Homo sapiens: one gene and its partner. The protein of the gene in region 1 purifies or fractionates together with the protein of each later gene. This does not show direct contact. Each region holds a gene or a part of one and is shown on either strand. Other genes may lie near its edges.

The links.
Region 2: the proteins of RPS6KA6 (region 1) and CDHR2 purify together in Homo sapiens (affinity purification with mass spectrometry; one large-scale study listed by BioGRID and IntAct). This does not show direct contact.

The regions. Positions count from the first base shown.
Region 1 is NC_000023.11:84,062,491-84,066,314, forward strand, and holds part of RPS6KA6 (ribosomal protein S6 kinase alpha-6), read right to left. Parts: intron 2,622-3,824; coding exon 2,481-2,621; intron 1,913-2,480; coding exon 1,787-1,912; 3' UTR 1-1,786. UniProt on the Homo sapiens protein: Constitutively active serine/threonine-protein kinase that exhibits growth-factor-independent kinase activity and that may participate in p53/TP53-dependent cell growth arrest signaling and play an inhibitory role during embryogenesis.
Region 2 is NC_000005.10:176,583,822-176,587,645, forward strand, and holds part of CDHR2 (cadherin-related family member 2 precursor), read left to right. Parts: intron 1-368; coding exon 369-438; intron 439-588; coding exon 589-1,194; intron 1,195-2,132; coding exon 2,133-2,204; intron 2,205-2,971; coding exon 2,972-3,021; intron 3,022-3,824. UniProt on the Homo sapiens protein: Intermicrovillar adhesion molecule that forms, via its extracellular domain, calcium-dependent heterophilic complexes with CDHR5 on adjacent microvilli. Thereby, controls the packing of microvilli at the apical membrane of epithelial cells.

The DNA of each region.
Region 1 (3,824 bases):
CAAATGAGAAAAAAAGCCAAAATGGAACATAAAAAGCCATAAGACATGATACCTAACTACTTCTAAGTAATTATTTTTCATGTGGCATAAATTGTTATTTAATCTCTTTCAATTATTTCCAAAAGATACCTCAAAATAAGAATACATACTTTAATATATCACACCCAGGAAACAGATATTTGTGCATGGGGTATAGATTATTTACATTACAAACAGAATATGTATAGTTTCTTTTATTAAATACCAAAGTTACGAGTTTCCTAGCCTAAATTGTATAATTCAGCACTCAGTAATCAACTTTCTCTCTGAATAAAGCAAAATAAAATACATAGCAAATAGTACACCTAACACGCACAAGTAGTTCACTTATATTCACTAAAGAAAACTGTGATATCCTCCAGTTTACATTCATGAATTCTTTCTGTCAGTAGTAGTAGTAGTAGTAGTAGTAGTAGTAGTAGTAGCAGTAGTAGCTGCTGCTGTTGTTGTAGCAACGGTATTTTCTTCAACAACGTGAAATGATTCTTTAGCATTTCATCATTTAGAGAAAAGAATACATACTACACAGTGGTTCTGAATTATACATTAAATAAGACCAATTTGGCCAGTTTTTTATAAATATGATTTTAAAATGTGCTCAAATTTTTTGTAGACCATTAATATTATTCATATTTAAAATGTTAGTTTATCTTCATGAAGTAAAATGATTAAGTAGCATTGTCTAAAGTTTACTGTAATACAATATACTATATCATGTGTGCTATATGCACAAGTCCACTACAGCAAGATGTCAACTGTATTATCATAGGATTCAAGGTAGAATGATATGCTACACTGTACTTCAAAGCACATCGAAGTCAGAAAAACAACAGTGTAGTTCATTTATAAAGGGGATAGATGATGATTACAATCCAATTGGTTAACTTGAAAGTCAGTTTATATAACACCAGGATAGTGTCAACACCACATACTTCATTTTCAAAGGCTTAACTATGACCTATTTATAAGATTACACCAACAGTATAAAGCCTTTGGAAAAAAAAAAAGTTTCACTTGTACTAAATTTCCATGATGTAAAATTTACAGAAGCCTTATAAAAACCTTTATTTCTAAATGAGGCCACTTATTATGGATAATATACAGATCTGCCTGCACACATTATCTGAGATATAATTCTTCTATAAAAACTTTGGCACCAACTATATCAAGAATTCATATATTAGCACAAATGTATTTTGCTCTGGCACCAAACCACTATGTTTACATTTTAGTAACTACAGTGAGTCAAATGAATGGAGTCCTTTGGTTTTACGGAATAACAAGCTTTTATAATAAGTTTTTGTTGTTTTTCTTTCATTAGAAAAAGCCTATCCTTCAGGATCTGATGTTTAAAAATACTAACATTGCTTGTCATTATACTATTATATATGTATACTGATTGTTGGTAATGACTCCCCAAACCATAATTGTATGAAACAAGAAAAAAAATATTAAAGTAACTTTATTTGAAAGGAATTTTAGAAGCTTGTGTGCAGAGAAGTTGTGAGGACCTGGTGGACACCAATTATATGCTTAAATAAACACTTGAACACTACTGCAAACACATAGTATGAATATTGTGGACCTGTGAATGGTTTTTTAAATCTCACTTCCCCTAAAAATGGGGATTTAATATTACTTAATATTCAAGTAATTTAGCAGACAACGATGCCTTTGATAAGAATAGGAAAAAAGCCACACATTTAATTTCATCTTCATCCAGTTTGGCCTAGGAACACCACAAATCTTACAGGCCAGTTGATGTTCGCTTTTTCATGCTCCGTCGCTGGGCTAAGCTTGAAGCAGCTACAGGCTCTAGGACTGGTTGAAAGGTCTTGTGAGTCAGGGCAGAGTATGTTGCAACCATTGCTCCCTAAAGTAATGAGAAAATGCCACAAACTAAGTACAAATTCTGGAGTTAAAAAAAAAAAAAACTTTCACATGATATCATGAGACATATATCTAGAACAAAATGTTTTCCTAGGAAAATAATTGAATATATTAGATCTGTGCACTGATGAATCAATATTACTTGTATGTTTTTCATTTCAATAACTATGCTTTTTACAAAAAATTGTTAAAACACTAACATTTAAAACCTTGATTCAATGTATATGGATATAGGAATGGTTTCACGAACAGTTATAAATTAAGAACTAACAGCAATCTTTTATTTCAATATGAAACTTGCATTTAGCCCAATCCTAATTCCAGCATCTCTCAAAAGCACGGCAGGTACAATCAAGAAATTTTTATTGTTTCATCTGAAAGGCAGTAGTAAAGTAAGCTAAGAAAAGTACATGGTTGTTAATTTAAAAAAATCTATCTTTAAAAAATAAAGATATTTTAAGGAATTATTTAAGTGTCATCAGCAAGTGGCACACAATGGGTTTATTAGGTATCTGATATCTCGAAGGCACATAAAAGTATGTTTGTTTTACCTTAACAACATGTGACACATCATTTCTCTTTGGCTGATCATTTGGCAACTGGTCTCTGTGAGTTATCCATGAGTGCTTTAATATTTGTTCAGCAGTATACCGCTGATGTGGGTCCATATGAAGCATATGGGAAAGCAAATCCTAAATTAAAAAAAATGTGTGTGTATATATATATACATGTATACATACATAATTTTACATTTGCTGAAAATGTGACAGCATCAATAGCCTTGCAATCTGTTTATTTCACCTACATTTATGCAAAGTAAAATCTATACTCTACACAGTTAACTCTCAAGAGAATCTTGAGAGATATTTTTCAATATATACTAAATCCTTATACACCACTTTTAAATCGGAAGATGCCAAATCTGTGGAATTGGATGTGTGATTAGTGACGGAGGAGGAAAATGTAAAATGGCAGAAGTTATCCTGGAATATGCTAAATGTTCAGCAGGAGACAGGAGCTATTGAACTTTGCTGTTAAGCTGGGCCCCAAGGTGTAAGGGTATGTGTACACAGATAAAACATAGAAGGGAGGGTCCCATGTAGTTAATCCATTCAATAAATGGTGGCTTACTATATAACATATTAAGAAAGCAAACCATAAATCCAATGTTAGCAAGTGGCTTCTATCATAGTAGTCCCCAGTGCATTTTAAGTTTTTCATCAAAGTAAGTGTACGTTTGCTTATGTTATCTCTGTTGCAATTAAAAAAGTTGTAAATTTAATATAACCTCACAGGAAAAGTTTTCAATATATTAAGAGATGTAATACTTTTAAATAAACTGTCTCTCCCAAGTATCTTTTAGAGAAATGAGAAGTAAACTCCTTAATAAGCATTTTCGGAGAATCTGGCAAGATGGCCGAATAACAGCTCCGGTCAGCAGCTCCCAGTGAGACCAAAGCAGAAGGTGGGTGATTTCTCCATTTACAACTGAGGTACCCAGTTCGTCTCACTGGGACTGGTTAGCCAGTGGGTCCAACTCACGGAGGGTGAGCAGAAGTAGGGTGGGGCATCGCCCAACATGAGAAGTGCAAGGAGCCAGGGGACCTCTCTCCCTCAGCCAAGCAAAGCTGTGAGGGACTGTGCTACCCAGCCCAGATACTACACTTTTCCCATGGTTTTTGCAATCCACAAATCAGGAGATTCCCTGGTGTGCCTACACCACCAGGGTCCTGGGTTTCAAGGATAAAACTGGGAGACAATTTGGGCAGACAGTGAGCTAGCTGCAGTTTTTTTTTTTTTTTTCGTAACCCAGTGGTGCCTGGAATCCCAGCGAGACAGAACCATTCACTCCTCTGGAAGTGAGGCCGAAGCCAGGGAGCCAAGTGGTCTTGCTC
Region 2 (3,824 bases), on another chromosome or scaffold:
AATAAATCCGAGAGATGGGAGTCAAGCTGGGCCAGGCAGGGTCGCAGGTGGGGACCCAGAACTGTGCTTCTAGAAAGCAGGGTCTAGAACAAGTCCTGAGCTGTGGTCAGAGAAACAGGAAGCAAGCAGGGCTTCCTGAGGATGGATGTGTAAGGCCAAGGTCCCACTGTAGGTCCCTGAACCCCGGGTGTGTGACCTGGGCAAGTTCCCTCCTCTCAGAGCCTGTCTCCTCATCTGGGAAGTGGGCAGTGAGGTCTGAGGCACTAGTAGAGTCCATGCCTTGGAGCACAGGGATTATTGGTTTCTCGGATTGGCTCTGGGGAGGGTGAGATTGGATCCCGGGGACTCAGACCTGTCTCTGACTGCAGGACATCAATGATAACCTGCCCATCTTCAATCAGTCCAGCTACAACTTTACGGTGAAGGAGGAGGATCCAGGTATGTGCTCCCTGGGCCAGGAGAGACACTGCGGCTGGGACCCAGTGTGGCTTTGTCAGGGTGGACCTCGAGTTCCAAGAGAGGCAAGGGCAGAGGAGGCTTCCGATGGCGGGGTCAGGAGTCCTTCTGAGCTCTGCCCCTTGTCCACAGGAGTGCTAGTGGGCGTGGTGAAGGCCTGGGACGCGGACCAGACGGAAGCCAACAACCGCATCAGCTTCAGCCTGTCGGGGAGTGGTGCCAACTACTTCATGATCCGAGGCTTGGTGCTGGGGGCTGGGTGGGCTGAGGGCTACCTCCGGCTGCCCCCGGACGTGAGCCTGGATTACGAGACACAGCCCGTCTTCAACTTGACAGTGAGTGCTGAGAACCCAGACCCCCAGGGGGGTGAGACCATAGTAGACGTCTGCGTGAATGTGAAAGACGTGAACGACAATCCCCCCACCCTGGATGTAGCCTCACTCCGGGGCATCCGTGTGGCTGAGAATGGCTCACAGCACGGCCAGGTGGCTGTGGTGGTTGCCTCGGATGTGGACACCAGTGCCCAGCTGGAGATACAGCTTGTGAACATTCTCTGCACCAAGGCCGGGGTCGATGTGGGCAGCCTATGCTGGGGCTGGTTCTCAGTGGCGGCCAACGGCTCTGTGTACATCAACCAGAGCAAAGCCATCGACTACGAGGCCTGTGACCTGGTCACGCTGGTTGTGCGGGCCTGTGACCTAGCCACGGACCCCGGCTTCCAGGCCTACAGCAACAATGGTAAGGCAGCCTGTCCTTGCAGGGCTTGGCAGGCCATAGCTTAGGGGCCGCGGGAAGGAGCCCTGGGCTGGAACTCACAAGGTCTGGGCTCAGATCTTGGCTCCAGCCCTTTCCAGCTGCAAATACTGGGAAAGTCCCAAACCCTCTCCAAGCTTCAGTTTCCCCATCTGTCCAGTGGAGTTGGGCAGTGGGGTGGGCTGTGAAGATTCAATGAGAATATGGATGTATGGCATTTATTGCAGTGCCTGGCATGCAGTAGCATCAAATTAATGCCATTATTTTACAAGATGCTGTGAAAGAAAGATAACACTGCAGAGCTAGATGTGTGCTTGTATCCCACTTCTGACACCAAATAGCAATAATAATCACATTAACAACTAGCATATATTGAGTCCTTATGACAGCCAAGAACTACACCAGGCACCTTGTAAGAATTTTTCCACTTCCACACAACCCATGGGGTAGGTGTTCCCTATCCAATTTTATAGATGAGGAAACTGAGGCAGAAAGTGGGTATTTAAACAACCAGCTTATATAGTTAGAATGTGTCAGTATAATGTCATAGGTGAGATCTACCTAGGCTGGGCCCAATCCTGGCCCACCACTATTGCTGTGTGACTTTGACAAGCTGCTTATCTGCTCTGAGGTCTGGGATGATACTCCCACCCACACAGGCCAGAGAAGACCGATCAGGCATTCTGGGTCAGGAGCAGGGAAGGGGACTGAGCATGGGGGAACACATGGGAGAGAAGCTGCGGGGCATGGGGTTGAGGCTGCGGGGCACGGGGTTGAGGCTGCGGGGCACAGGGTTGAGGCTGCGGGGCACGGGGTTGAGGCTGCGGGGCATGGGGTTGAGGCTGTGGGGCACAGGGTTGAGGCCCAGGCTCTTTGGGTCAAGCTTTTGCCCAGAGCCAAAGCCAGCTGACCTTGTCTCCTAGGAAGCCTCCTCATTACCATTGAGGACGTGAATGACAATGCACCCTATTTTCTGCCTGAGAATAAGACTTTTGGTAAGCAGCAACCCCATTCACACACCATACCCCTGCTCCATAAGGCCGCCTTTGAGCAACCCCGACAGACCCTCCTTGGACCCCAGGGGGAGCCTTTAGAAAGGGGGGAAGGCCTCTAATCCTGCATCTTCCTAGGGCTGCAATAGGAGAGGACATTGGAGTTTTCTTTTTTCTTTCCTTTTTTTCTTGAGACGGAGTCTTGCTCTGTCGCCCAGGCTGGAGCGCAATGGTACGATCTCAGCTCACTGCAACCTCCGCCTCCCAGGTTCAAGCAATTCTCATGCCTTAGCCTCCAGAGTAGCTGGGGCTACAGGCATGCGCCACCACACCTGGCTAATTTTTGTATTTTTAGTAGAGACAGGGTTTCATTGTGTTGGCCAGACTGGTCTTGAACTCCTGGCCTCAAGTGATCTGCTCGCCTTGGCCTCCCAAAGTGCTGGGATTATAGGCATGAGCCACCATGCCCAGCCAACACTGGAGTTTTCATTCCAGCTCTGTCCGACCTAATGTCTGGCCCTGGGCCAGGACTTCCCTCTCTGGGCCTCCATTTCCGCATGGTCCTGTGGGCCTGTGACCTCACCTGTGACAATGGGAGGTGGATGACTTGCTAACTACTGGCCCAGTGGTGGCTGTAATAGGGGTCTCTTTTGGTAGAGAGGTTGAGGGCAGGTTTAGGGGGATGAGCCCTGAGCTGGGCTCGTGACCAGCCTTGGTCCAGGTGGGCAGTGTCCCGACCCCGCTGACCCCGTTCCCGTTCACACCTGCAGTGATCATCCCTGAACTCGTGCTGCCCAACCGGGAGGTGGCTTCTGTCCGGGTAAGTTCTTGGCTCCAGCCTTTGTTGGTCATATGAGCCCCAGGGGACACAGGGCTGAGGCCTTCAGGCCTTCCATGGTAGAAAGAAAATATATGGGCTCCAACACATGAAAAAGAAAACCCCAGAAGGGAAACCAACACCTGTCTAATCAATGTAATCAAACTTCACTGTGATAAATGTAGCATTCATAAAAATGTCATGACCGTAAATACCACTTGCAGTCCAGATATTTCTTACTATACCAGAATTCTTGAGTAATACAGAGAACTCATAGCTAATTGTAAATTAAGCCAGTGCCTTGTCATTAAATAATTCTCAGAGCCAGCTGGGCACGGTGGCTCAAGCCTGTAATCCCAGCACTTTGGGAGGCCAAGGCAGGTGGATCACCTGAGGTCGGGAGTCTGCGACCAGCCTGACCAACATGCAGAAACCCCATCTCTACTAAAAAATACAAAATTAGCTGGGTGTGGTGGTGCATGCCTGTAATCCCAGCTACTTGGGAGGCTGAGGCAGGAGAGTCACTTGAACTCGAGAGGCGGAGGTTGCGGTGAGTCGAGATCACGCCATTGCACTCCAGCCTGGGCGACAAGAGTGAAACTCTGCCTCAAAAAAAAATAAATAAATAAATAAATTATTGGAGCCAAGTCATAAAAAGGCTTTCAGCTGTTTATGGTGTTGGATGTGGCAAGTTTATTAGGGGTGGTGGCCATGCCGTGTGGGGATGAGGCTTCCCACACCACCGAGGGCTGGGCCTGGCTGGGCTTCTTACTGACCTGGAGAGCTGCCTACCCTCTCTGGGACTC